Linked DNA regions of Homo sapiens. The protein of the gene in region 1 interacts with the protein of each later gene in a biochemical or structural test. Each region holds a gene or a part of one and is shown on either strand. Other genes may lie near its edges.

The links.
Region 2: of the proteins of ALKBH5 (region 1) and USP36, one has a biochemical effect on the other in vitro, tested with the Homo sapiens proteins (one study listed by BioGRID).

Annotation. Positions count from the first base shown.
Region 1 is NC_000017.11:18,179,449-18,194,775, forward strand, and holds the start of ALKBH5 (RNA demethylase ALKBH5), read left to right. Parts: upstream 1-4,379; 5' UTR 4,380-4,795; coding exon 4,796-5,565; intron 5,566-15,327.
Region 2 is NC_000017.11:78,823,112-78,838,231, forward strand, and holds part of USP36 (ubiquitin carboxyl-terminal hydrolase 36), read right to left. Parts: intron 13,961-15,120; exon of another isoform or gene 13,786-13,960; intron 13,262-13,785; 5' UTR 13,253-13,261; coding exon 13,000-13,252; exon of another isoform or gene 12,888-12,999; coding exon of another isoform or gene 12,871-12,887; intron 12,391-12,870; coding exon 12,169-12,390; intron 5,897-12,168; coding exon 5,786-5,896; intron 4,237-5,785; coding exon 4,134-4,236; intron 73-4,133; exon of another isoform or gene 61-72; coding exon of another isoform or gene 2-60; intron 1-1. UniProt on the Homo sapiens protein: Deubiquitinase essential for the regulation of nucleolar structure and function. Required for cell and organism viability.

The DNA.
Region 1 (15,327 bases):
GAGTTGGAGTTACCTTAGGCCCCTGATTCACTGCCTATGAACAGACCATCCCCCACTCCTTGGGTATCCCCAACCCCAGACCCCCATCACTTGATGGGCCACACAAGTTTGAGAGTGGTACAAGGGAGAAGTTTGGGAAAAGCCTTCTTGGAAAATGGGACATTAGCATTGAGTTTTGAAAGATGAGTAGGAGTTTGCTAAGAATAGATGGAAGACAGCAGGATAAACATTCCAGAGAAAATCATGTTTATTCCCTGCTGTATCTTCCAGAACCTAGGAGGATGCCTAACAGAGAGTAAGCACTTAAAAAATATTTGTCATATGAATGAAAAAATAAACGAGTGAATGTTGATAGAAAGTGCTGGTGCTTTGGGGAGCTTGTGCGGGGCAGAGAACACTTGGGGAGACTAGATAGGTAGATGGGGGCATAGCTGCAAGATCCATGGCAGCAGAGAAAGGATTTATCTACTTATTCAGCCATTCAATAGCTATTAAATACCTACTGTGAATGAGGCAAATACCAGGCACTGGCAGTTAATCACAGTCAAATCACCGCAAACTAGGATAAGACCTGTGAGTGGGAGTTAGCTAGGGAAAGAGGAAAGAGAACAACATACGCAGGGGCCCTGAGGTGCGCATTACTTGTAGCAGGATCTGAGACTGAAGAGGCCGGCAAAGATGGTTTCGATAGGGCTTCTGGGCTACATTAAGAATTTAGGATTTCTGGGCCAGGCGCAGTGGCTCATGACTGTAATCCCGGCACTTTGGGAGGCTGAGGCAGGCGGATTGCCTGAGCTCAGCAGTTCGAGACTAGCCTGGGCAACACGGTGAAACCCCGTTTCTACTAAAATAAGAATAATATACAGGGGCAGCCTGCCCCTGTAATCCCAGCTACTCAGGAAGCTGAGGCAGGAGAATGGCTTGAACCTGGGAGGCAGAGGTTGCAGTGAGCCAAGATCATGCCACTGCACTCCAGCCTGGGTGACAGAGTGAGACTCCATCTCCAAAAAAAAAAAAAAAAAAAAAAAAGAATTTAGGATTTCTGGGCCGGGCATGGTGACTAACACTTGTAATCTCAGCACTTTGGGAGGCTGAGGCCAGTGGATCACTTGAGCTCAGGAGTTTGAGAGCAGTCTGACCAACATGGTGAAACCTCTCCTCTACTAAAAATACAAAAATTAGCCGGACATGGTGGCATGCACCTGTAATCCCAGCTACTCAGGAGGCTGAGGCACAAGAGTCACTTGCACCCAGGAGGCGGGGGTTGCAGTGTGTCGAGATCGCGACACTGTACTCCAGCCTGGGCGACAGAGCGAGACTCGGTCTCAAAAAAAAAAAAAATTTAGAATTTCATCCCAAGAGCCATGAGCAGCCTTCAAAGGTTTTCCAGAGGGGGAAGGGGAGGCACAACCTGCACAGACTGTACTTTGTTAAAGCCATTCTGACCACTGAACGGTGAGTGAATGTAGGAGTTGGGGAGACCAGAGGGGGCTGCTGCAGTGTTAGCTGGAAAACTTGTCATAGATTCTAGTGGTGGTGATGGGTGGGGAGAAGTTGGTAACTGGGGAGAGATTAGAAGGCCCAGCTGGCAGGACTAGGGGGTCAATCAGACCATCCTGGGATGGAGAGGATCAAGAAAGAGCCCCTGATACAAATGCCACAGGGCTGTCCTGCTTTTCACCACTGCCTTGGGTTGGCTTTCCCCAGAAGCAGACCCCAAGGTGAGGAAAGTAAGGAACTCACCAGAAAGAGTGTGGTGTCAATCAAGTTACCACTGTGCAGGGGCCATGCCTGGCAGCAGCTCACTTAACCCCTGGGGTTCTGCCTGCGGCGCTGATGCTCAGTATAGGGACCCCCAAAACAGAGCACAGTGGGCTCCAACATGAGGCAGCCCTGAGGCCTGCCCTCTGCCCCTCATTTCTCATTGTTGTGAGATCATACATGGTGTGTGTGAGGGGGAGGGGGTGTCAGGCTAATTCTTTTGCCCCAAAACCTTTTCCCTAGTCAAGCTGAACTATGAGGCTCAGGAAGGGATGATGTGGCAGAGTGAAAACGAGGGGGCCCTTTTGGCTTTCAGAATACAACTGGGGCCTCCCACACAGACTACAAGCGGCTTCTTGGAAGTAGATCATCCAGGTTGAGCCAAAATGTGAATCACCTCTTCTCTAGGTTGACACAGCCTCTCCCATAACGGACACTGCATTGGAAGCTTCCCTGTGTTCCTCCCTGACTGCTCTTGAGCTAGGACTCTCCCCTCTCGGAGCCCCGGTGAGGGACAGCACAGATTCTGGAACCAGGCAGCCTGGGTTTGAATCATCACTAGGCCACATACTCGCTGTATGGCCTTGGGCAAGTCATTTCACCTCTCTGGGCCTGTTTCCCTATATATACAATGGTAATAATAATAATGCCCTCCTCATTGAATTGTTTGGACGATTAATTGGGCTAGTATATGCACAGGTCCTGGCACATAGTAAAAACTTGATAAGCTTTTTAAAAAAATGTCCATTCCAGGCTGGGCGCAGTGGCTTACGCCTGTAATCCCAGCACTTTGGGAGGCCGAGGCAGGAGGATCTTGTGCCCAGTAGTTCCAAGACCAATTTGACAACATGGTGAAACCCCATCTCTGCTAAAAACAGAAAAATTAGCGGGGTGTGGTGGTACACGCCTCTACATAGTTCCAGCTACTCAGGAGGCTGAGGTGTGGGAGGATGTCTTGAACCCGGGAGGTCGAGATTGCAGTCAGCCAAGATCGTGCCACTGCACTTCAGCCTGGGCAACAGAGACTCTGTCAAAAAAGAACGAGGAGGAGGAGGGGAAGGGGGAGAGAGAGAGGGAGACGGGTGATAAGGAACTGGCATGGGCAACAGCCATGGCAAACAGCCTGGGCAAAGGCCAGGAGGTGAGACACAGTATGTTTGTAGACCTGGCTTACAGGATGAGGACCAGGCTGGGGCTCAGTGTACATGGAAAGAGAGGAGAGGAGGAGCCAAGGCCAGAAGAGTCTTGAAGAAAAGCTTTGAGTGCCAAATAAAGCAGGGGAACTTTATCCTGGGAGACATGGGAGATTTTCCAGCAGATCCCCCCCGACCCCCATTTGTTGGAGCCCTCCAGTGCATCCTGCACGGCTACGCCTTTTTGTTTTGTTTTGCAGCTCTGTCGCCCAGGCCGGAGTGCAGTGGCGCCAGCTCGGCTCTCTGCAGCCTCAATCCCCTGGGCTCAAGGGATCCTCCCACCTCAGCCTCCTGAGTAGCTAGGACCATAGGCGCGCGCCACCACGCCCAGTTCATTTTTAAAAATTTTATTGTAGAGATGGGGTTGCCATGTTGGCCAGGCTGGTCTCAAACTCCTGGGCTCAAGTGATCCGCCCGCCTTGGCCTCGCAAAGTGCTGGGATTACAGGCGTGAGGCCCCGCGCCCGGCAACGCCTTTGCTGACTGCTTCAAAACTTTTTTGAATTGACTGTAGTCATTATCTATAGCTTAGCCTTAGCCTTGCGCCCGTTCGTTTCCTGGAGTTTTCTTCCAGAGTCCCCGTAGGAGGTGCCCCCACGCCCATCTCCAGCACCAAGGAGGCTCGACGCCAACCCCAGCGCGCCCCCACGCTCGCCGTCACCGGGACGTGACTCGTGAAACGTCCGCTCCGGGCGGCGGCGGCAGCGGCGGCAGGCTGGCTTGTACCCCGACAACGCGCGTCTGGCTTCTGCCGGACGTTCCTATCTGGGTTCAGAACTGGGGCCGGGTGCTGCAGGTCCCGCAGTCTGAGAAGTTTTCGCGGGTTTCAGAAGTTTCCTTAGGCGTTCTAAGGGCTTTACTCAGGTGGAGTCTCCATTCAGGCACTTATTTAACCACCCATTTCTCCTTTAGGGGTCCTCGCTGCTCGCCCAGCCGCTAATTAAGTGACGGACACAGTAGCTAAGGAGACTGCCTGATTGACACGCATGATTACCAACCGACTTCCGGAAACTCCAGTCAGGGCCTGCCCGGCGCGTGGCCCACGGCCCAATTAAAGAAGTGGAAGCGCCAAAGGGGGAGGTAACGGAGCGGCCTACGTTGTGGCGGTTCCCTGGTGAATGCGCCCTGGGGTTGAGGCGTCTGCGGGCGTTCGGACGATGCCGTGACGCGGCACGGCGACACTGTTGGCAATATGAGCGCACCCCTGTAGAGGGAGCCCTTCGGTCCTGGAGGCGGCGCGGCGTGAAGACAGGTTGCTATTTGAGAGCGTTCCCTTGAAGCCCCTCAGAGAGTGGGGGAGGGGCGGCGGACGGCAAGCGGTTCCTGTCTGCGCTTGCGCCGGCGCCTCTGCCGACCCGGCCTGCACGCACGCGCATGCCCGTAGCGCGCGGAGCCGCGGTGGCCGGCAGCACTGCGCGTGCGCGGTGAGGAGCCCGCTAAGGAGCGGCGCTGGCGGACGTCGGGCTGGCTGCCCGTGACGTCGTGCGGAGAGCTTTAAAGTGCGGGCCGGGCCGGGCGTCCGAGGGTCTGGTCGGGAGTCGGGCCGCGTCTCCGCAGCAGCCCTCCGCGGCATGAGGCGCTGCCGGCGCCCCTGCCCCGCGGGACGTGGAGAAGGTGGAGGAGGAAGAAGCCCCGTTGTCGCCACCGTTGCATGACCCGCCGCTCCTGAGGCCCTACCCCACGCCCGGACCCTCGACGCCCCCCGCCGGGTCCCCCACTCACGCATGGGGGTTCGGCGCTAAGGACCCCCCTCCCTCCGGGGGCCCCGGGGCGCGTCCCCTTAGAGCCATGCCCGGCTGCCCCGCCCGCCCCGGAGGACCCTAGAGCAGCGTCGTGGGGGCCATGGCGGCCGCCAGCGGCTACACGGACCTGCGTGAGAAGCTCAAGTCCATGACGTCCCGGGACAACTATAAGGCGGGCAGCCGGGAGGCCGCCGCCGCTGCCGCAGCCGCCGTAGCCGCCGCAGCCGCAGCCGCCGCTGCCGCCGAACCTTACCCTGTGTCCGGGGCCAAGCGCAAGTATCAGGAGGACTCGGACCCCGAGCGCAGCGACTATGAGGAGCAGCAGCTGCAGAAGGAGGAGGAGGCGCGCAAGGTGAAGAGCGGCATCCGCCAGATGCGCCTCTTCAGCCAGGACGAGTGCGCCAAGATCGAGGCCCGCATTGACGAGGTGGTGTCCCGCGCTGAGAAGGGCCTGTACAACGAGCACACGGTGGACCGGGCCCCACTGCGCAACAAGTACTTCTTCGGCGAAGGCTACACTTACGGCGCCCAGCTGCAGAAGCGCGGGCCCGGCCAGGAGCGCCTCTACCCGCCGGGCGACGTGGACGAGATCCCCGAGTGGGTGCACCAGCTGGTGATCCAAAAGCTGGTGGAGCACCGCGTCATCCCCGAGGGCTTCGTCAACAGCGCCGTCATCAACGACTACCAGCCCGGCGGCTGCATCGTGTCTCACGTGGACCCCATCCACATCTTCGAGCGCCCCATCGTGTCCGTGTCCTTCTTTAGCGACTCTGCGCTGTGCTTCGGCTGCAAGTTCCAGTTCAAGCCTATTCGGGTGTCGGAACCAGTGCTTTCCCTGCCGGTGCGCAGGGGAAGCGTGACTGTGCTCAGGTAACCCACCCGGGTGGAGGGGGCGGCCCTGCGCCTGCTGCCTTAGCTACCCACCCTGGCCCAGAAAGCAGCAGCCCGTAGGAGTCTGCGTTTTTTACAGTTCTGACCAGTTCTTCTGTTTGTAGATTGTAGGGAGCGAGAGAAGGGTTTTGTGTTTAAGATACCTATAGCAAGAAAATAGGGAACCGATGTGGAAATCCTGTCCCCGAAGGCAGGTTTGACGGGATCACTGACTTGGCTGAGAATTCATCGAAAGCCATCTTTTCAGAAGGCTGTTCCCTTTGATTTTTTTTTTTCCCACCATCCATTTCTTAGCATAAGTCCCTTTGTGATTTTCCGGTTTTCCATTCTGGCCTTCCATTTACAAATCTATGCTTTAAAATTTTTTTTTTTTTTAATTTATCTAAAAGTCTTTCTTGTTCTGCCATTTTTGGATTCCTTAACAGAGAAAGTAGTCACAGGCAAAGGCCCCAGAGATTATTTAATTGAAGCACATTCTCCATTCCCAGGAGGGGGAGTGACTTCCCTGGAGTTGAACAGATTAGTGGTTGGGCCAGGCATACAGAGCAGCACACTCTTAAAATTCTTCCCTCCTGGCTGCAGAAGAGCCCATCAGTTCTTTGTAAGAACGTGTTACTTGTAGTCAGGACTGAATACAACAGAATACAGCTGGTCTCTTGACTGTTTGGCCTTACAGTTGCGTGAGCAGCAGAACTTAGGCTTTTGGCCTATATTCGGTTCCCAGATCCTGCTGAGAATTAGCTCAGTGCCCTGGCCCCCAGAGGAGATTGCCATTGGGAACACCTTTGCTGTTTATGTGAAGTGAAAATTTATTTGGAAGCGGCCTCCTTCCAGTCCTGAAAAAGGTAAACCTAGTAATGTAATTCAGTAATACCCAAAACATCTTAGGTTTAGACCGCAGCTGTTCTCAGAGCAGCTTGGTTGACCACCACCAAATACAAGGTTGAGGACACACTGGGCTTTTGTCGTGAGCAGCCCAGGTTCTGAAGTGAGTCAGTAGGGCCAAAGTCATGAGGAGAAGCAGGGTCCCTGGAGCCTTCTTGATATGAGATTAGGTCATCTGTTTCATTTGAGTCTAACAGCTGAGGCTGCTTCCATGTTGGGGATGGCAGCAGAGCCTTGTAATGTCCAAGACGTCCTGGTGGGAAGGTGGGAAGTCAGTAGTAGCAGAAGCGATACTTTAGCTCTTTAGGCATCTGAAACTTAGAGGACAGCCTAGCTGTCAGATGCCTTCTTATAATGGGCTTCTGAGCTTCTCAGATCTTCATGGCGCTCCTAGATGGATGTCTTGGCAAAATGCTTTAAGATGGGATTTCCAGGACACACCCTCTCCGGGTGCTTGCTGTGTAAGGCAGGTTGGGGTCTGACCCCATTGACGGGTTCTCAGTGCAAAAATTACCTCACACAAGGACCATTTGGTCTCTTAGCGGGATATTAATTTTCTGCGTAGTCATTGGCCCTCAGGGTGGTTGTCAGGAGGTCTAGTAGTGGTCTGGTGCTTAATGAGGGGATCACAAGGCATTTTTTTTTGGTTTTGGGACTACTACTCTCCTTAACACATGCCCACCCTGTATTTTAAGAACAGAAGTTTCGAGTTCTTAGTATGCAGGTCTGTTAGTGATCAGCAACAGGATTGCATCATCAGGAAAATTCTCTTCATCTTTTCCTCAGAATAGTAAAGTCCTAAAGCTTTCCCAGTCCCTGTCAACCCTTTCTGGATTCAGACTTGGCTGTGGTGTTAGTGTGGGAGGCTCAGCCATGTCCTGAAAAGTGCTGCCCCAGGCTTTGAATCCAGCTTTTCTCTCATTTGCTTTGGGATCTTGTAGGCGTTCTCTGAGCTGGCTTTCCCATCTGTAAGTGGGGATGATGCCAACTTCCAAAGCCTATTAGAATTAAATGTGGTGATTTGTTGTCTAAGATAGGGCCTGGCACAGGGTAGGTACTTAAATGGGTGCTTGCTTTCATATACAACCACTCAGTGATCCCCTGCTCTCTCACTGGGGAAGGAACTAGGGATTTGGTGGAGCCTGAAACATGACAGTTTCCCTTCGTGTAGTTCAAGCCCCATGGAGGCCTCAGACAGGAGGATAAGTTATAGCCCAGGAAGGTAACTGCAGAAGCACACTGAAGGGGGACATCTTTTCCACTTTGGAGTGTTGGAAGTTTAGGGGAGGAAATGAACTGGAATGTGAAAAGTGACTAGGAATGAGCCAAGCAGAGAAAGGTGGAGAAATACACAACAGCAGTGTCTTTGGCTGCAGTAGCAGGAGTAGCCATAGGTAAGAGGGGGTGGATGTTGATGGGAGGCAGATGGAGTTCATTAGTAGAGACTGTGGTTGAGGGTGCTCTGGTGAACTCTAGATCAGGGCTTCTCAACAGTGCTATTGTTATTCAGGGCTTGATAATGCTTCATTGTTGAGGCTGTTCGTGCATTGTAGACTGTTCAGCAGCATTCCTGGCTTCTATCTGCTAGGTGCCAATAGTGTTTTTTATGACAACCAGAAAGTGTCCAGACACTGCCAAATGCCGAGGCAGGGGAAGTGCAGAATCCTTAGTTGAGAGTCACTGCTCTAGGGTCTGGACCCTTCCACTAATTAAATCTTCTTGCACCTGCATACTTAGCTTACCTTGGTATGCAGGTGGGTGAACACCTGCCTATTAGTAGTGCCCGTCGTCAAATCCTGCATATAAACTGGTAAGAAGTGGTGCTTTCTCTTTTCCTGGTACAGATCCTAGCCCAGAGGTGATGAGCAGTAAAGCTGCAGATTGGAAGGGAGGGGCTGGTGAAAACAGTGGTGCGGTGCAGATGGGGAGGGATTCTAGTAGTAGGCATCTTAGACTTCAGTTGGTGTTGGTGGCAATGGTATCTGTACCCCTCTAAGACCGCATGGCAAGAATACAATTTTATATTTAATAGTGATCAGCATGGATGTTGGTGCGTCACAAACATTGACTCAGCAGTGTCTAAACCTGGGCATTTAGAACAAGGCCTCACAGAATCTTCTGGAAGTGCTTCAAACTCCTTTCCAAACCTAGTCGTCAGTTGTTTTTTGTAACCTTCCCATGTTAGGCCTGGGTGGATCCCCTCTTAAGGCTGTACTTTAGGGAAATATTTTTTATCTTCATATCACTTTATCTGTCATTCATTCTCCTATTCCCTGTTGGCTGCATGGGGCAGATTAAAACAGACTCTGATTGGACTAATTAGAATAATTACTTCAAGGCTAATTGCTTACTTGCTGCTATCTTTAATCACTGCTACGTGGTCTGTGGTGTGGTGGCCACATGCCCAGAGACCCAGGCCTAGGCCAGCCGTCTGGAAATGACTGTATCACCCAGGCACGGGGCATGCACTGGTGAGCTCAGCCTGTGACTCTTCCAGTTAACGGTTGGTATTGGGTGGAGTGGGCACCCCTGTCAGTTCTGGGATAGTCTGATCTTGTTCAGCTGGTTGAAAGCAAAATTTAGCTTTCTGGCTTAAAATAGTTGGGAAAGTAGGGCAGATAGGTCCTGGGCCACATCTCTTGTGTGGACTCTTCTGATTCCACTGGAGGGGGAGGAACCACAGGATGAAGTCAGGGCTGTGCACCGTCAGGAGGAGCTCTGGGCCAGGGGGGTTGGCTGCCCTTGCTGCTGCCAGAGCCTGACAAGGCAGAGGGCAGTAAAAGAAAGGAAGCTAACAGTGAACCATGGTGTTAATCATGAAGCTCAGAGCAAGCAGAGAATAAATAGGCCATAAAAATTTCAGAGCTGGCCAGGCTTAGTGGCTCATGCCTGTAATGCCAGAACTTTGGGTGGCCAAGGTGGACGGATCATGAGGTCAGGAGTTTGAGACCAACCTGGCCAACATGGTAAAACCCCATCTCTACTAAAAATACAAAAACTAGCCGGGCATGGTAGTGTGCACCTCTAATCCCAGCTACTCAGGAGGCTGAGGCAGGAGAATCACTTGAACCCGGGAGGCGGAGGTTGCAATGAGCCGAGATCGAGCCCTTGCGCTCCAGCCTGTGCTGTAGAGTGAGACTCCGTCTCAAAAAAAATAATAAAAAAAAAAATTTCAAGGCCGGGCGCGGTGGCTCACGCCTGTAATCCCAGCACTTTGGGAGGCCGAGGTGGGTGGATCACGAGGTCAGGACATCGAGACCATCCTGGCTAGCATGGTGAAACCCTGTCTCTACTAAAAATACAAAAAACAAAATTAGCTGGGTGTGGTGGCGGGCGCCTGTAGTCCCAGCTACTTGGGATGCTGAGGCGGCAGAATGGCACGAACCCGGGAGGCGGAGCTTGCAGTGAACCGAGATCATGCCACTGAACTCCAGCCTGGCAGCCTGGGCGACAGAGCAAGACTCCGTCTCAAAAAAAAGAAAAAGAAAATTCAGAGCTGGCTGGCCAGTTGGTGGATAGCCTTCACTGATACAGTGCTAGCTCTCTGGGGGATATAGGTTCATCTCTGCAAATCTCTTTCATGGGGCTAGTGGGTGTACGTGTGCCCTTTGGTGAGGCCAGCAAGGCCCCCTGGACAGGCTTGCTACCAGGAAACACAGATGGGCTTTTCTTCCTACCGCCTCCACAACAAAATCCAGAAAGTTTGACAGCAGACTTGGTTGGAGTTACAGCACCACCATTTTAACTCGTTGACTTCGGGGAAATTAAGCTTTTTGAGGCCTCAGTTTTCCTCATCTGCAAAACCAGTCTAATGATGCTATAGAGTTGTTATAGAAAGTTGAATCTTTGTCATCTATTGAATGCTTGAAATTTAGCTAAAAGTGTCTCAGGAGATGGGCTACCTTCTGTGTTTAGTACTGTCTATCTTGGTGTGTACAGAATTGGGACTTGGCAGGTTGACCTTCCCTCTGGATTCAGAAAGCCCCAGGACTTCTTATAAAGTTAGGCCATGGGTCGTCTTGGAGGCTTGGGTCTGGTAAATAATTGAGCCTGAGCTCACAATCCTGCCCCTGGGTCCAGGTGGCTGGTCTGCTGCCCCCAAAAGCCTGACCTTCTTGGTCCTGTGGGTCTGTCAGTAAGGCAGGTAGCCATAGCTGGAGAGAGACAGTCACCAGGCTGGGATCTTGGACAGTCCCTCCATCTCTGGTTCATCCTGGCCTAGGCAGGGCATGGAGTAGATGGAAAATGGTGGCCATCTTGGAAATGTGTCATAACAACTCAGTTTCCAAGACCGTCCCCTAGAGGAGAGATGTACAGTCCTGCATAGTTTCTTTAAAGAATTTTTCAGGGCCAGGTGCGGTGGCTCATGCCTGTAATCCCAGCACTTTGGGAGGCCAGGGCGGGTGGATCACCTGAGGTCAGGAATTCAAGACAAGAATGGCCAAGATGGTGAAAGCCCGTCTCTACTAAAAATACAAAAATTAGCCGGGCGTGGTGGCAGGCACCTGTAATCCCAGCTACTCGGGAGGCTGAGGCAGAGAATTGCTTGAACCCAGGAGCTAGAGGTTGCAGTGAGCCAAGATTGCGCCACTGCATTCCAGCCTAGGCAACAGAGTGGGACTCTGTTTCCGAAAAAAAAAAAAAAAAAAAAAATTTCAGACACCTCATTTAATTTGCACCTAATCTTCTGAGGAGGGGCTTGCTGTGATCTTTGTTTTGCAGAGGCAGAAACAGGTTCTAAGTGGTAGAATAGTTCAGCTCAACACACATTTCATTTAGTGTCCACTGTGCAGGGATGAGTAAGGCCTTTGAAGAGCTTTGTCTTGAAGGGAAGACACAATTTCCACAAGGCCAGATGGAATAGCAAAGAGGCATGAGAGGGTGTGGTTGAGCAATGTAGGGGGAACCCAGCCTGGGCAGTCAGGGAAAGGCCCCCAAAAGAGGAGATAGACATGTCAGCTCCTTCGAGAGTCACTCTGAGGTATAGGACTAGTGGGTGACATTTGCAACATATACTGGTCAGTGCCTCTGGGGCTGGGGCTGGGGGCTCAGCCCAGAGAGGGAGCAGGCAAGCCAGATGGCATAAGGTTATTTCCTCTTCTCCTTTCCCTGTGAAAACAAAAAAGCAGGAGGTCCTGGAACTTTTCATGCCAGCAGTAGGGCTGGACCCAAGGGCATATTAAGTTGCAAGCTGGCCGACTGAGACTTTCAGACAATTTATTTTGTAGCAAGTAGGTTCCTTAATAGTAAATAATACCCTGTGGTCTCTGCTCGACATTTTGTGAGATTGGCCAGGAGAGCTTCCCTTAATCAGGACTTTGAGCTCATGTTGCCAGAGCAGCCGGATATTCTGAGGAAAGGGTCAGTGGGCTGTGTCATAGCTGCTAGGAAGTTCTAGAAGACCAGTACTAATAAGCCTTCCAGGTTGGGTCAGTGCCAAAGTCATTTTTGTGGGCCTGTGCAGCCCTACCTCCATACTAGTTCTTCCAAGGCCTGGGCTCCGTGGCAGGAACCTGACATGGCTTATTGTTTGTTCTAGAGCCCTTTGGGGGATGGGGTCAGGGAGCATGCGGGCAGTCAAGCTTTGACAAACATCTGGATTTGCTCCAGAACTGCATTAAGAAAAGTGGTTCCTTGTTGGAGATGGGAAGTCAGGGCCCTTGGTTATGCATATAGCCAAGTCAAACAGATTGATAACACTTGTCAATGGCAGGGAAGGTTGCCTGTAGCCAGCACTGCAGATTCAGGACTTAGAAACGTGCCTCTGGGGCCGAGCATGGTGGCTCACACTTGTAATCCCAGCACTTTGGGAGGCCGAGGTGGGTGGATCACGTGTGATCAGGAGATCGAGACCAGCCTGGCCAACATGGGGAAACAGTCTTCACTAAACATACAAAAATTAGCCTGTAGTCCCAGTTACTTGGGGGTCTGAGGCAGGAGAATTGCTTGAACCTGGGACGTGGAGGTTACAGTGAGCCAAGATCATGCCACTGCACTCCAGCCTGGGCAACAGAGTGAGACTCTGTCTTTAAAAAAAAAAAAAAGTGCCTTTGAGACCTTTGACAGCTCTTTGGGAAAGTATTGTGTGTCTATATGGGACAGTCTTGCAGTCTAGACCCCCATTCCCCCAGTGTGGAATGATAAAAGCATGGGATGAGAACTAGAGTTCCTAGCTCTGGAAATGGGGCCCAGGCGGCCCCCACTACTGGCAGATCCCTGCAGGGGGAGCCCAGACCATGTCTCTTTGGCAGATGCTGAATCCAGGGCTCTGGCTTGCCCCAGGATAGTCCAGGGCCCTCTGACTTTTGTCAGAGTGCTTAGTAAAGATTGTAGGGTGTCAGGCACCCTGCATTATCTGACTTAATTCTCGCAATACCCCTGCAGGTAGGCCTCTCACCACCCCTTTCCAGGAGTGTCAACCAAGTAGTCATATAATGCTGTTTTTCTGCCTGGAAGGGAGGAGGCCCCGTTTTTAAAATCTTGTAATCTTAAAAACTTTAATCTTGTAATCTTTAAAACTGTCCCCATTTTTAAAATCTTGTAATATTAGTAGCAGCAAAAGAATAGCTAAATTATAAAGCATAACAAAATGAATACCCAAGAACCTACTGTTCTCCTTATTACAGATGAAGAAACTGTACAGGTTTTTAGGTTCAGCATGTGATTTAACAAAGGTCACAAAGCTAGTAGGAGACAAAGCTCACATTTGAACCCAGGTCTCTTCAACTCACTAACTCCTGTGTGGTACTTCTCACTGTGGGCTGATGGGTATTAATAGGTATTATGAGAGAAGGTTCTTTGGTAAGTGCTCAAAGTCAGTGGGTTCTTTTGCTGTAGTAATTCTCATGTGCTTTAAATATATTAATGCTTTTTGAAACTCTAATCAGTATTTTACAAATTGATTTCACTGTAGACATTCGTCCACTGTCTTTTTCTTTTTTTTTTTTTTTTTTTTTTTGAGACGGAGTCTCACTCTGTCACCCAGGCTGGAGTGCAGTGGCACTATCTCGGCTCACGGCAACCTCCACCTCCCAGGTTCAGCGATTCTCCTGCCTCAGCCTCTGCGATAGCTGGAATTACAGGCACCTGCCATCATGCCTGGCTTATTTTTGTATTTTTGTAGAGACGGGGTTTCACCATGTCGGCCAGACTGGTTACGAACTCCTAACCTCAGGCAACATGCCCACCTTGGCCTCCCAAAGTGCTGGGTGGGATTACAGGCGTGAGCCACCGTGCCTAGCCTGTCTACTGTCTCTTATGGGACTGGTGTTCATGGAGAAAATTTTGAAAAATTCTTGTCTAGGAGCAGCTTGAGGGAGAAGGTGGATCTATAAAATAAAGGTTTGGGCCGGGCGCGGTGGCTCACACCTGTAATCCCAGCACTTTGGGAGGCCGAGGCTGGCGGATCACGAGGTCAGGAGTTCAAGACCATCCTGACCAACATAGTGAAACCCCATCTCTACTGAAAATAACAAAAATTAGACAGGCGTGGTGGGGTGCGCCTGTAGTCCCAGCTACTTGGGAGGCTGAGGCAGGAGAATCGCTTGAACCCGGTAGGCAGAGGTTGCAGTGAGCCGAGATTGTGCCACTGCACTCCAACCTGGGTGACAGAGTGAGACTGTCTCAAAAAAAAAAAAAATTAAATAAAATAAAGGTTTGTTCTATCCCCAGCATGAGCTCAAATCAGATTTCCAAATCAGAGGTGCTTCCTTAAGGCTGAGCCTGAAGCAGTCTGGCTTTTTATCTCTTGTTGGCTCTTGCATCCAGTTATTAGAGCTGAGGTTTGGCCAGCCTGGCCATCTTGAGGGGTCCTTCCCAGGCCTGCAGTGTTTTTAATAGTTAAGTTTGTGTCTGTACAACTAGCCTTTGAGAAGGGAGCTGATCAGCAGCCATGAGAGAAGGGTTTGTGGTACAGGGCCAGGTAGGGAAACTAAGCCATACTTGTCCTACTAGGCTTGTGGCTGAGTTTCTGGGTGTGTAGAACTGCTGCAGCTCAGTAGAGTAACTTGGAGTGGGAGTATCTTGTGGCTGCCATGCTTCCAGTGATAGCATGTGAGGGGTATAGGAAGCTCAGAGCTTGCTTCCAGAGTTTCAAATTGGAATGACGCTAGCTGAGAAGAGGACAGTCATCTACCCACATTAGTTGGTCTCTGAGCGGTTTTAAAAGTCATGTAACTTGTTGAAAATAAACAGATATCTGAGTATGATGGAAATCCTTTTTTTTTGGGCGGGGGGCAGGGGGTGGGGGTCAGTGGTGGGGACAGAGTCTCGCTCTGTTGCCCAGGTGCAGTGGGCGTGATCTTGGCTCACTGCAACTTCTGCCTCCTAGGTTCAAGCGATTCTCCTGCCTCAGCCTCCCAAGTAGCTGGGATTACAGGCGCCCACCACCATGCCTGGCTAATTTTTGTATTTTTAGTAGAGATGGGGTTTCGCCATGTTGGCCAGGCTGGTCTCGAACTCCTGATTTCAGGTGATCCGCCCACCTCGGCCTCCCAAAGTGCTAGGATTACAGGCATGAGCCATCACGCCCAGCCGGAAATTCTTAAAATATTCAAACACAACTGTCTTCAAAATTTTGGATCCCCCCAAATGGAGACTTCATGTAGATATTCTATTTTGGAATGAGGCAGTCCTAGCTCTCCCTGGTGACTCAGTGCTATCAGTGGCTGCCTTGGCTTTCTCTACCTGCTAAATGGAGGGAGAATGAGGAGGAGCTACAGTGTACTCTCTGGAGTACCCTTTTAAAAAAGGGTTCCTGGCCTGTTCAGGGAGAGTCTTGCTTCCAGCCTCTGCCTTAAGTGGCCAAGGGGTCTCCTTTGTGTCATACCAGGTTTTTCCTTGAGTATTACAGTCTCT
Region 2 (15,120 bases), about 61 Mb from region 1:
CCATGGCACTTCCCAGACTCCGGGAGCTCTGAAATACTTGGGGGACCAATACAGGATCATTCAATTTTTATTCTGCAAAGTTAGAAAATGAAAAATCAACTGCCACCATCTACTGTCCCACCATTCTTCAAAAGTGACCTTTTAACTGCAAATACTAGCAAGGACGTAATCTCTGCATGGACTGAGAACTGTGGGTAGCTGCGTGTGATGGCGGCTACCAAAATCCAGACCACCCCCACAACCCCTCTGTCATCCAGAAGCCCGCAAGCACCAGCGCCCGCAGGGCCACAAGGAATCCCCTCTTGCATAACCCAAAGCAGAGGAAGCACAACTGTCACCTTCCCCAGGAGGAGGAAAGGCAAGCTGAGTGACAGCGAGCTCCCACAGGCATCCCACTGAGCCTGGGGACAAAGGGCAGTAGAGAACAGCTGGGCAAGAATGGAGGAGGGGGCAGGAGGTGGCCCGAGAGCCACCCGGAATCACAGCTGCAAAGGGCACCCTGAAGTGAAGTGCTGAATATGGGGTCTCACAGGCACGCAGCTGGAGTAGCAGTCTCCACAGGCATGGGCTCTCAGGGGGAGAAGGCAAAGAGGCAGGCAGGCAGCCTTAGAAGGGCAGTGAAGGGCAAGAGAGGCAAAAGGGGAAACATCAGGGTCCTGAAAAAAACTCAAAACTATCCTAGACTATCGACCCTTCTGCTGCCAGAGGAAAAGCCAACCATGAAAGTGCACTGCACGGGGCAGACAGAGGAGGCGCTCTGGATACGAATCTTGAAAACCAGCCGACCCACAAGATAAATGAAAGCAGGCCCAGTCTATGCAAAGTGCTTCAAGCACAAAGCAGCAATGAACAAGAATCAAAACACCTCATGGGATGCAAACTAGCTCCAGAAAACAGACATGATGCCAAGGACACAGCCACCAAAACTCCAAGCCGAACGTCCTCAACACAGTGAGAGTGGCCTCATTTCTGGAACTAGAGTGCCACACACAGCTGCCCTCCTGGAGGAACTTATGAGAGGCCGGGCTTCACCCAGCCAGGAGCGCACCAGAGGTGCCAACTGGAGGGTGGGCAATGAGCAATGGGAAGATGTAACCATAACCCAAGGCTGGGCAAGAAAAAGATACCACCTTACAGGTGCCAACAAAAAAAATGAAATCATGCACGCTAAAATGGCAAGAGAGAGAGGAGAGGAAAAGAGCTAGGAAGTAAAGGGTACCACGGTGGACTGCCAAATCAGACAGTGAGGAGCGAGGAAAACAGGACCAGGTGCATTTCAAAAGGGCGTATGAAACCAGCAGGCAGCATGGAGCGTGCCTGCAGTTCCAGTTACTGGGCAGGAGGATTGCTTGAGTCCAGGAGGTGGAGCCTGCCGTGAGCGGAGATTGCACCACTGCACTCTAGCCTGGGAGACAGAGCAAGGCCCTGTCTCAAAAAGAATGGTTTATGTACAAAGGTAGCCATTAAAACAAAAACACACATCTTCCTAATATCCAAAGAAATTTGAGAAATAAAGAAAAATCAGAAATAAGCACAGTAAATATGCTACCTATAATTACTATAAAATACATAAATATGACAGAATTGAGACCAAACTTTTCAGTCATAACAGGAAATGTGAAGGGGCTTAACCTGCCTATTAAAAGATGGTCATTTTGGCTTACAAAACAAGACAGATCTTAAGAACGCCTCTAAGAAAGGGTTCAGAAAGTGACAGCAAGGGGCCGGCGGAAACCCTGCAAAAGCAGGGGCTGCAGCACTGACACTGGCCATGGCAGAATTCAGAACAAAAGCCACTCCACGTGACAAGTGAAGACACTCAGAATGCTAAAAGCAACGATCCTCAATGAAGACATGACAGTTACGAATATCTAACCACAACCACCTGTATAGAGCAAAACTAGAGGAGATGCAAGGAGACAGGCACCCACCAGAATTCCAGTAATCATGGACTTAACACACTATTCCAAACAGATGAAGGGGACAAGAGCACATGGATATAGAAAATGAAAACTGCATCATCAGTAGACCCATCCATGGACAGAGGAGCAAACCAACACCCTGGCAGTCTCAGCAGCCACCGCCAAGCATGCAGGAAACATTCACAAACGCTGGTCACCTATAATCACGGAGAAAACATCAGGAAGTTCCATGAAGTAGAAATATTATCAACACGCTCTGATCATAATGCAAGTAACATCAAAAGTCATCTACAGAAGCAAAAGACAAAAAGGCCCCTCCACCTGCAAATTAAATGGAATAATTTGCTTTATGAGAAGCTCACCATTGGTGTCATTCTTATTTTTTCTCACTCCACATTTCACTACAGACCAGTGAAAGCTCCCTCATGGACCGACATCTGGTGAGCCTTCATCTCTCCCCTGGCAATGCCTGGCCACCTGACACCTGGCCTCCCTCCTCTTTCCAGCAATCCTGGTACCAACGAATGGCTCACCACCACCCACCCCAATGCCCAGACCGCAGACCTGCATTCCTCCCATCTCACAGCCCCAAATCCAAACCGTTATTCATTCTACCTCCCATCCTACTCCTCACGAATTTCTTCCACCGTAGACTCTGGTTAATTGGACTGACTGAAGCCCAGGGGTCAGTTTCTGTCCTAAGAGCGCTCCAGGTGGCTGCACCCTGTGCCCAGAGCCAGGCCCCCTGCTATAGGCTCGCTGCACTCCCCCTGCAGGTGCTGGGGACACCGCAACCCTCCTCCTGGGGACACCTACTTGCCTTTGCAGGCCCTCGGGGGTCACTTCTCCCAGGAAGCCGCCTCTGGGTGAGGTAATATCCCTCTATCACAGCATTGGCCACACCACATTGCAAACGCTGCTGGGGTCCACTGTCTTCACCAATTACACCATGAGCTCCACAGACTCCAGGACCATGGCTTCTACCTCTCAGTTCCCAGTGCTAGCTATGGGGCCCAGCACACAGGGAACAGCAGTTCAATTACCCAGTTCACTGAAGGGCAGACCTGGGATCATACAGGGAGCAAGGAAGCTTGAGCCCCTTCAGGAGAAGGGGAAGAACGCGTGACCAAACCCTCAAAACAGACAAAAAGGAATGCATCCTAGGAGTGCAGTGAAAGTTGCCTTCATATAAGTGATTTAAGTAAGTTTTCTTAAGCCAGGAATGGTGGCTCATGCCTGTAATCCCAGCACTAAGAGGCCAAGGCAGGCAGATCACTTGAGGCCAGGAGTTGGAGACCAGCCTGGCCAACATGGCAAAACTCTGTCTCTACTAATAATACAAAAATTAGCCAGGCACGGTGGTAATCCCAGCTACTGCACTCCAGCCTGGGCGACAGAGCAAGACTCCTGTCTCAAAAGCAGTTTTCTTTCTGTAAGTCTTATTTACGTAAGAATATCATCCACTGAGGCCAGTAGTTTTGCCATTTCAATCACTTATTGCCACAACTCAACTTCTCTAAAGAACATTCTAGGTATATTCCCTAAACTATTTAAAGTATTTCTACGATCCTAAGCTGAGGCAATACAAGGAAGTCCTAAGCATTTCCTGCCTGTTTTCTTTGGTCTGAACCTATGAACTCAGGAATGACACAAAGACAATTTGTGATGGCAACCATCACATATAAGGGCTTACGTGGCGTGTGAATAAGAAACAGCAGCCAGGCACAGTCAGATCCTAAAGTTATAAACCTCCTCATGTTAAAGCTCCCTGTTTGTACATATACATGTACATATAAATTATACTGCAGAGACCTCATTCCTACCACCCCAACCTCTTTTCAAAAACGACATGATTTTTAAGAGACTGAAAAAGTCCATGGTAAGAACTGAATGCCCCTAAGAAGGTCTGCTAACATATTTCCCCCTGACTGAGCTGCTCAGACACAGCTGCCGCCACCACAGCCACCCGATCCTACCAAGCCGCCCCGGACCAGCAGGACGTCTCCGGAGACAGCCCTTTCCCAGGAAGCAAGGGCAATCCCCTATTTGGGCTCCAACAGTTTGAGTACCCAGAGGCAAATTCTGCCACGTCTACCCAAGGGCAGCCTGGGTAGAAAGGTGCCGGGCTGGCTGTTGCCATAGGAATGTTCTGCTGCCACCATGTAGAAAAGGTGTCCAAAGCCCTGGGAGGGTGGGTGGGGAAGCACGCACTTGGCACAGCCATTCAGGCAGGCTTTCTGCATGGCGTCGATGGTGTACCGCAGGAACTCATGCGCGTCCTCCTGGTTCCCAAAGCGGAAGTGTCGGGCGATCTCTAAAAGAGGAAGAAACAGGGAGGGAAGAGCTCGTGTCTTCTCATCAAACGGCCTGCGGCTGCTTTCCTGAATGGCCATTCCTGGCTGTTATAAGGGGAAAATACTGCAACTTTTCAAAGGAACAAGTGAGGAAAACAAGAGCTCTACATGGATTTTCTATATCCCAATCACAATTCATCATGGCCACCACTTTCTCAATAAGATTGCAGGCTTGAGCATTCACTACTGCACAGACAAGGAAGAACACCAAGCCCTCAAAAATGTAAAATGCCGGCTGGGTGAGGTGGCTCACACCTGTCACTCTAACACTTCAGGAGGCCTGGGTGGGAGGATCACTTGAGCCCAGGAGTTCGAGGGCAGCCTGGGTAACATAGGGAGACTTCATCTCTACCAAAATAAAAAATAAAAAAATTAGCCAGGCATGATGGCATGTGCCTGTAGTCCCAGCTACTTAGGTGGCTGAGGCAGGAGGATGGGTTGAGCCTAGGAGGTTGAGGCTGCAGTGAGCTATGATCTCACCACTGCAATCTCCAGCCTGGGCAATAGAGCAAGACTCTATCTCAGAAAGAAAAAGAATAAAGAATGTAAAATCCGGCAGGATGCAATGGCTTATGCCTGTAATCCCAACACTTTGGAAGGCCAAGGCAGGAGGATCGCTTGGAGCTGGGAGTTGGAGACCAGCCTGGGCAACATGGCCAGACCCCATCTCTACAAACAATACAAAAACAGTCAAGTGTGGTGCGCCTGTAATCCCAGCTACTCAGAAGGCCAAGGCCGACTGCTTGAGTCCAAGAGTTTGAGGCTGCAGCGAGCTGTGATTGCACCACTGTCCTCCAGCCTAGGTATAAGAGCAAAACCCTGTCTCAAACAAAAAGAATGTAAAATCCATTGAATATCTCTCCAAAAGCCAATATAAAACACAGGTGAGTAAGTATTTCACAGTGCTACAATTTACACAGATTTCAAAAACCGGTAATAGGCCTCTTCTTTCTGCCAAGTGAATGTGAATGAGACTTTTTTATAGCATAGGCAACTGATTCCTGATATTCAGAATGGAATTGGTACATTCCTCATCCATCCCTCCTCCCAGCTCTCCCTCAGGCCCACCTGCCTGCCCCAAATACACAATAACTCCTCCACCTGCCCAAAGGAAAAGCTACCTGTCCTGACCTGCCCCCACTAAGAGGCTTCCCCACTGACCCCAGCCCACATGTCTCTAAACTGCTATTCCTTGAGTCTGCACCACCACATGCAGGGCTGTTAGCACAGAGGGATTCCCAAGACTTCATCCATGACTCACTCTTCTCTCCCTTCTACCAACTCCCCAGCACCTCCTACAGGGCGAGCACTTAGCAGGCCTTCAGTAACAGATGGAGAATGGCACAGTGGCTCGTGTCTGTAATCCCAACACTTTGGCAGGCCAAAACGGAAGGACTGCTTAAGGCCAGGAATTTAAGACCAGCCTGGGCAACATAGCGAGAACCCCATCTCTACAAAAAATTAAAAAATAAATAAATCACAAAAATTTTAACATGGATTGATGCTTACTTTTCAGGTCTCGGATGAAGGAGACGGGCTTGATGGCGTTGCCGCTGTTGGCGAAGGCCTGGACAATGTGGTTCTGCATGACACACAGCATGCAGAAGCTTCCCTGGTGGCCTGCCGGCGTGGAAGGAGGAGCAATTTTAAGACAAGAGCTTTCAAAGAACTCACGGTGAGGCCCCCACCCCAAACGTTAACACAGCCAGAAACACAAGCAGGTAAGAGCAAACCAGGCTGTGAGAGAACGGCTGAGCCAGAGATCCCAGACCTCTGCTGACTGGGTGACCACCAAGGAAATGTTATTCTCTGCTGGATGGCGTTTGGAAGCTATGATCCATCCAAAGCTGAAACTCTCACCATCACAACCTCACACCATCACCCCACATTAATGCTGACCTGTGCATGATCCTTTTCAGATTTCACTAGTATTATTTACTTATAAAAAGACTAAGGCAGATTTTCAAAATGAAGCTTAAACGATGTATTCTCGAATTTCTAAGCTGCATCACATGGTAAATAGGCTAAAATATTTTAGGGCTGACAGCCCCTTAGTAGTGCCTCAGATATGGGACCGTCTGTTCCACTGGTTCTAGTAAACACCTCGCTAGGATACATCTGGGGTTGAAAATGTTTTCTGGGAAGATCCAGATAGCAAATCCTTTCCTATCTGAGGGCTATACAGTCTAGTCACAACTATGCTCCTGTATTGTAGAGGAGGCAGCCATAGACAATATATGAACAATGGGGTATGAACGTGTTCAATAAAACTTTATTTACACACACAGAGAGCAGGCCAGATGAGTCTGCCCACCCCTGCGCTACATAAAACGCCTCACTAGGCATTAGGCTAGACAGTGGTCCTTTTTTTTTGAGACAGAGTCTCACTGTCACCCAGGCTGGAGTGCAGTGGCACAATCTTGGCTCACTGCAACCTCCGCCTGCCGGGTTTAAGCAATTCTCCTGCCTCAGCCTCCCAAGTGGCTGGGACTACAGGCTCGTGCCACCATGCCAGGCTAATTTTTTGTATTTTAGTAGAGACAGAGTTTCACCATGCTGGCCAGGCTGGTCTCGAACTCCTGACCTTGTGATCCACCTGCCTCAGCCTCCCAAAGTGCTGGGATTACAGGCGTGAGCCATCGAGCCCAGCCCCGACAGTGGTACATTTTTACCTTTCAAATTATGATGTAAATAAACACTGCTGTGATCGCCGAACTCCCCTCAATCTCTCTCAACCCCATTTTCCATGTACCTTCATTCAAAGTCACCACTATCCTGAATTAGGCAATTATCGTTCTCATTCATGTATTATCACACACATGTGTATCCATGAACAATAAATGGCACTGTAGCTACATGTTTCCAAACTTCCTTTCTATAAATCGTATCATGCAGTTACGTATCATTCAGCAATGGCTTTACAAAAATCCATGTTGCTAGACATAGCTCCAGTTCCTTCAAATCTTCCAGCTAGAATATTTCACTGAATGAAGAGACCACTGTTATTTATGTATCCACCACTAACACACATTTAGCCTTTCCATTTTCTCTGCTATCATAGACATTTTGCAATGAACAATCCTGCACCTGTCTCCTTGAGCACATGGGTCAGTTTCTCTAAAGTACACGCTCAGAAGACAAATTTCTGGACCAAAGGGCAAGCACGCCTTCAAATCTGCTAGATACTGTTGTCTACTACACAGTGCATTACCTATTATCTATTATCAAATAGATCCATCTCATAACACAAAACTCAACCCAAATCATTTCCCCGCAATATCTCCAACTCCTTAGACTTCAAAATCAATAATGCAACAGCATGCAGCCTGCTTAGCAAATAGACATTAAAATGCTATTATTTACACAAAATTCTTCTTGAAGAGATGTAAAAAACTCTCCATGAGATTGCCTTTACATAAAGGGGAGGTTTTTTTCATTTTAGACTTCTGCTTGCCTTTTCTAACTATATCCATGTTATTACTTTTATTTTTAAAATGACAATAATGATTGGTGAACTCAAAATTAGGCAAAAATTATGTCATTTAAAAGAAAATACAGGCCAGATGCAGTGGCTCACGCCTGTAATCCCAGCACTTTGGGAGGCCGAGGCAGGTGGATCGCGAGGTCAGGAGGTTGAGACCATCCTGGCTTACACAGTGAAACCCCGTCTCTACTACAAATACAAACAATTAGCCAGGCATGGTGGCACGTGCCTGTAGTCCCAGCTACTCGGGAGGCTGAGCCAGGAGAATCGCTTGAACCTGGGAGGCGGAGGTTGCAGTGAGCCAAGATCACACCACTGCACTCCGGCCTGGGCGACAGAGTGAAACTCCATCTCAAAAAAAAAAAAAAAAAAAAAAAAAAAAGGGACAACATAAATATTGAAGAGCTCTTTTTTTTCCAAAACCTAACTTCAGGTAAGATACAGTTTTACTACAAAAGAAAATGGCCATGGGGGCCCACACCTGTAATTTCAGCACTTTGGGAGGGTGAGGCGGGTGGAACACGTGAGGTCAAGAGTTCAAGACCAGCCTGGCCACTTGGTGAGACCCCCATCTCTACTAAAAATACAAACATTAGCCGTGTGTGGTGGCAGTCACCTGTAATCCCAGCTACTTGGGAGGATGAGGGAAGAGAATCGCTTGAACCTGGGAGGTGGGGGTTGCAGTGAGCCGAGACTGTGGCAACTGCACTCCAGCATAAGCAACAGAGACTCTGTCTCAAAAAACTGTGTAGAAATTAAGCCTCTAATCATTATATATAAAACGCTGCTGGTTGGGCATGGTGGCTCACACCTATAATCCGAACATTTTGGGAGGCTGACGCAGGAGGATCGCTGAGCCCAGGTGTTTGAGACCAGCCTGGGCAACACTGCCTAACCAAATCTCTACCCAAAGAATACAAAAAAAAAATTAGCTGGGCATGGTGCTATGAGTCTATAGTGCCAGCTACTTGGGAGGCTAAGGTGGGAGGATTGCTTGGGAGGTGGAGGTTGCAGTCAGCTATGATTACACCACTGGACTCCAGCCTGCGTGACAGAGTGAGAGCTTGTCTCAAAAAAAAAAAAAAAAAAAAGCTTCTTTCAGCCTAATAAAATATCACTCTTAACAGGGTAAATAACAATCTAAGCCAGGTTCTCCAGCAATATATGAGATTAATTTAAGTGGCACATGGACAAATATTTATTCATGTAATTTAGGAAAATATAACTCAAAAGTCAATCCATGACTACACGGACATAGAGAGATTTGGGAAACAAAAGGACAGGACTGAACTGCGTTCCTCCTAGACTATTTACACAGTGTTTCTCTTCTAGCTAAATATTAGCGCCAGAGACAGTCCAGCCTACGGCAGGAGCTGCTGCTCCGTGCCACGTGCACAGTGGACCCTCGTCAGAACAAACACCCCTTAGGATCCTCAACTCTTCAAATGCCATGTGCTAGGAGGGGGAGACCACAGCCAAAGCCCACTTAGGGGTCACTCAGGATCCAGTGGGGTGCAGGAAAAAAAGGCCACAACGTCTCTTCATATGTTCCAAGATAGTAAGATGCACTAATATTTCACAGTGATACTGGCCCATGGGACCGGTATTGGAAGGAAGACCAGGCGTTCCCCTTGAAGGGATGGCCATGGCTGCCTTACTCACACGCTTGCTGCTGACATGCTGCAACAAACTGCAGCTTACCTGTGCCAGGTTACGGGGATTTACAGATATTATCTAGTTTTAACTAAATTAATCCTCACAAAGTTGGCAACTGGCTCAAAAAGATCCTGCAGAGAAACCAAGAATGGAAGGCAGCTCTACAGTGGAAGAGCCCTGACAGGCCTGGGATAGCAGAGTCTTACTGCCAAAACCATGAGACGAAAACAACAGCCATCTAGTCAAATCTTACTGAAAGTCCACCCAGAACCACCTCAAAATTACCAAGGTCACCACTGGAAATAGGGGCTACAATTAGCCATCTCAACAATGTGCTTCTGCAGGGCACGGTGGCTCATGCCTGTAATCTCAGCACTTTCGGAGGCAGAGGCAGGCAGATCACCTGAGGTCGAGAGTTCAAGACCAGCCTGGTCAACATGGTGAAACTTCGTCTCTACTAAAAATACAAAATTAGCCAGGCGTGGTGGCGGGCACCTGCAGTCCCAGCTACTTGGGAGGCTGAGGCAGGAGACTCTCTTGAACACAGGAGGCGGGGGTTGCAGTGAGCCGAGATTGCACCACTGCACTCCAGCCTGGGCGACAGAACGAGACTCCATCTCCAAAAAACGCCCCCAAACAATGTGCTGCTTCATCTCAACAACTATGCCTTGATAATTAACCTTTGCTGCTATGAAGCCATCGCAATTAGCAAGATGTTTACAAACACTTCCCACTGCATGGCCATCTTGTGTTCTTTTTTTTATGTTTTTTTGAGACGGAATCTTGTTCTGTTGCCCAGGCTAAAGTGCAGTGGTGTGATCTCAGCTCAATGCAACCTCTGCCTCCCAGGTTCAAGTGATTCTCCTGCCTCAGCCTCCCAAGTAGCTGGGATTACAGGTGTGAGCCACCGTGCCCAGCCAGTAGCAGTCACTTCTATAGCACTCCCTCTTTGCGGGCTGCTACTCCAGGCACTTGACTCACTCAGAATTTATCGGAGCCTCACGCAACTCTGTAAGGAAGACAGTCTCATTCTTCCATAGACCAGGGACATTCTCAAAAACTCACAGTTACTAAGGGGCAAACTGGGAAGCAAACCCTACAGGCCAGGCTCCTGAGCTGTGTTTTCAACTGCTCTGCTCCCTCCAGAATTCTACTTAGAGATTTTCTGCGATGAAAACATCCTGCATTCCTAGGATAAACATAAGTTGCTTACAGTTTTTTAGAAACTGTGTCATTTGGTAGTATTTTCCTACAATTTTTATATCTATGTTCGTGAAGAAGTTGTGGTTATCCATTTTCTTTCTCGCATTTTCCTTATTATTGTTATCCGAGTTATAGGAACTTTATAGAATGAGCTGGGAAAGATTCTCTCCTCCTCTATTCTTTGGAAGAACGTGTAAAGGATTGGAATTGTTTCTTAAAAGTTACATAGAAATTGGCTGGGCACAGTGGTTCACACCTGTAATCCCAGCACTTTAGGAGGCCAAGGCGGTTGGATCACCTGAGGTCACGAGTTCAAGACCAGCCTGACCAACATGGTAAAACCCCATCTCTACTAAAAATACAAAAATTAGCCAGGCGTGGTGGCGTGCGTCTATAGTCCCAGCTATTTGGGAGGCTGAGACAGGAGAATTGCTTGCACCCAGGAGGCGGAGGTTGCAGTGAACTGAGATCACACCACCGTACTCCAGCCTAGGCAACAGAGTCCGTCTCAAAAAAAAAAAAAAGTTACACAGAAATAACATTGTCTCTGCTTGGGGTTTTTTATGGGAAGATTTTTAACCAATGCTTTAATTTCTTTAATAGTTAAAAGACTCTTCACTTTCTATTTCTTTCAGTTTTGGTAAGTTATATCTTATTTCACCTCTATTTTAATCAAATAGAGCACACCACCACATCCAGCTAATTGTTTCGATTTGTTTTTTGTGTGTGTGAGATGGAGTCTTGCTCTGTCACCCAGGCTGGAGTGCAGCGGCATGATCTTGGTCAGCTCACTGCAACCTCCACCTTCTGGGTTCAAGCAATTCTCCTGCTTCAGCCTCCCGAGCAGCTGGGATTACAGGTGCACCCCATCACGCCTAATTTTTATATTTTTAGTAGAAACCGGGTTTCGCCATGTTGGCCAGGCTGGTCTCCAACTCCTGACCTCAAGTGATCTGCCCACCTCTGCCTCCCACAGGTGTGAGCCACCGTGCCCGGCCTTGATTTGTTTTTGTAGAGATGGGATCTTGCTGTGTTGTCCAGGCTGCACGTTTTATAATACACATAAGATATGCTGATACAACAACAGATGCATAAAACAATTGGGCTAGGCATGGTGGCTCACACTTATAATCCCAGCACTTTGGGAGGCTGAGATGGGAGGATCATGTGAGCCCAGGAGTTCAAGACTACAACGAGTTGTGATGGAGCCACTGCATTCCAGCCTGGGTGTCAGAGCAAGATACTGTCTCTAAAAAAATAATATTTGTATATATATATATATATATATTTTGGAAGTATCTTTTGAAAACGTTTCTGTCTGGGTAATTATTTACAGAAAAGCTTGGCGAACACAGCCCCACCTGACCGATTCACCTTCATGGCCCATTCTGCAGCAGGCATGATTCAAATTTAGGTTTCATCAGTTACTATACATTATGAACTACCCTCCTAAATTTGACCCAGACTGAGAGCAGCAGTGCCACAAGTGCATGGGCTTATCTAATCCAGAGGACCCACAGCCACCCCACTGCTGCAAACCCACACTCACAGCTGCGAGCATGCTCCTTGGAGAGCAGGTAGTTGGCTAGAGGTGGTGTGTAGGTCAAGCACTGGATGGTGGCATTGAGAAAGCAGGTGTTGCCAAGGTTGTGGAGTCCTGCGCCCACGCGGAAGACCCGCTCCCACCTCAGAGACAGTCGCTCCGTGGGGAAAAGCACTTTCTGCGGGGCTGGGACTCCGTCACCACAGCTCTCATACGTGTGCTCACTGCCTGAGGAAGAAAGGGACAAGGGAAGAAAAGAGGAAGACGTAAGTCCACACACAGGTCGTCCACAAAAAGAAACTCCTGAAGCATACACTTAGCATGCAGTGACTCGGAACATGGCACCAGAGAAGAACTGGTGTTCTGGTTTACAGGACATTCCTGGAAAGCTCAGGAGTAAACCCAGCCATCCCACGGACCTCCTAGGCTGCTTGGCTAAAGAATTCAAGGGCCCCTCTATAGATGGAGGACACAGCTCAGAGACTGAGTGGCGGAAGGAGCCAGGCCTGGCACTCTGCACCACACTGTGCCCACATGCAGCCCACCCCATTTCTCTTTCTTAGTTCCAAGCCTGACTTTCGACTGTATTATACTTGGGATAGGGGGACAGCAAGTCCAAGGACCCACCAAGTACACAGATCCACCAAGCACACAGATTTCCTTGCTACCAACCCTGTATCATTACTTCTATAACTGAAATCCACTGACCCCATGTAAAAATTCATAACTCTTTGACCACATTCTCTTGTTTTTCCTACTAATTAGTCAATATTTAAGTCCATCCACTTCGTCACCCCGGAGTGAGGGCCTCTCTGCCAGCACACTGCACATCTGTACCCTGTCTCCTGGCCGGTGGGTCATCTCCACTCTTGTGGCGACTAGCTCCCTCTGTTTTGGGGTTGAGCAACACATATTTGCTCTTTAAGGCCTCCAGCTGGTAGGAGAAGCTCTTGCTGGCTGGCTCGAACTCGATTTTCTGTAAAAGGACCTTCTTGGCAGAGGAGGCAAGAAGCTTCCCCAGTTCTCCATCATCAGCCGAGTCCTTGCGGCCGGGTTTCAGGGCCTCCTTCAACTTATCCACTATTGGCATGGTGCATCACTGTGGGGACAAGAAGAAACATAGAGCCATAGATAACGAAATCCCGGGACAAAAACATCTCTTAAGATCTCCTCTTTGGTCATTATGGATGCTAGCCACCACAAAAGCTCCCCTGGATCAGTGATCCCCTGGATCAGCTGCACAAAGGAAACAGGGAGACCCAGCACTAATCACTTGGACATATTAGTTCACATTTCCCCCACAAAAAGATAAGATGCCACTACAAATAGAGGTGAGCAGACAACAGTGGCCCTGAGGCAGCCAGACAGCCCCTGCCATGTGCATCTCTTCATCAGATACTCATCAAGTGGCTCTGGACATCATTCTTGGTGCCATTTCCTTCCAAAGGTCATCACGTGGTCCAAATGTCTGCTCCAAAACAGGGGCACACTAATTCTCACATACAAACTGGTTATACACACACGGACACACACACACACACACACAAACGGACACACACACACACACCCACGCAATAAATGAATTAGCATGCAGGTCAGATGAGCATGCATGTCTGTACAGACCTGCACTCTTCAATATGAAGGCCACAGGCCACACGTGGCTACTGAGCATGTGAAATGAGGCTAGTCCAGGTTGAGAGGTGCTATAAGTGTAAAATGCACACCAGATTTTGAAGAGAAATACTCACTAGTATAAGAAGAGAATGTAAAACATCCCAGTAATTTTTAGATCAGTTACCTGTTGAAATGGTAATATTTTATATATATTGAGTTAAATAAATTATGAAAATGAATTTCACCTGCTTCTTTTTAATGTGGCTACTATAAAATTTTAAATTATATTTGTGGCTTGTATTAATCTCCATTACACAGTGCTTGGAGTACAAATTATCTTTTTAAAAGTGAGGAAGGAGAAGAAAAGCAAGTAGCAGGCCTAGAGACTAGTATCCATTAGACACCTAAACTTAAACAAATGTCTTCCCAGGACTCTTATCAAAAGAGAAGAAGAAAAGCCAAGCAGGAGAGTGGGGAGATCACAGGCTTTGGAATGTGGTGGCCCCGGGAGGTTCTATCATCCTTAGCTATGAAACCCAGGGACAACTACTATGACTTCTCCAAACCCCCTATTCTACTGTAAAATAGCAACAAAAATAATAGGCTTGGGAAGTGCTTTAGAGCTTGCTACATACTACAGTCCCTAACAGAGGATCGATACTGTTGGTGCAGCTGCATGGAAACTGTAACCAAGAAGAGACCCCTGCACCTCTCCAATCGCTACCTTTGTATCCACCACTTGCCCTCCCCTACCCACCACCTCTCAACTTAACCTTCCCAAACACAGCACAGACTATCTGAGTCACAATTTCAAAAATATGTCCCTTAAATTGCTCACTCACATCAGAAAAATGATGACTTCCTCTGGTATTCAGTACCCAGCCTGCCCTCAGAGAATCAACAAGTCAAGTGTGCCCCAAAATTCTGCTCTAGTGAAAGTAAGGACTTCCTCCAGCACCTCATATTAAGCCATTCAAATTTATCACTGTGGATCATCTAATTCTATACATGGATCAAGTATCTTTTTCTACAAAAACTTCTGTAAAGAAAAGCCAGGTGCAGTGGCCTGGGCCTGTCGTCCCAGATGCTTGGGAGGCTGAGGTGGGAGGATAACTTGAGGGCAGGAGCCTGAGGCTGCAGTGAGCTATGATTACGCCTGTGAATAGCCAGTGCAGTCCAGCCTGGGCAACATCGTGAGACCCCATCTTTAAAACAAAAAAAATCGTGGCTCACGCCTGTAATCCCAGCACTTGGGAGGCCGAGACGGGTGGATCAGGAGGTCAGGAATTCAAGACCAGCCTGGCGAAGATGTTTCTCTACTAAAAATACAAAAAAACTAGCCAG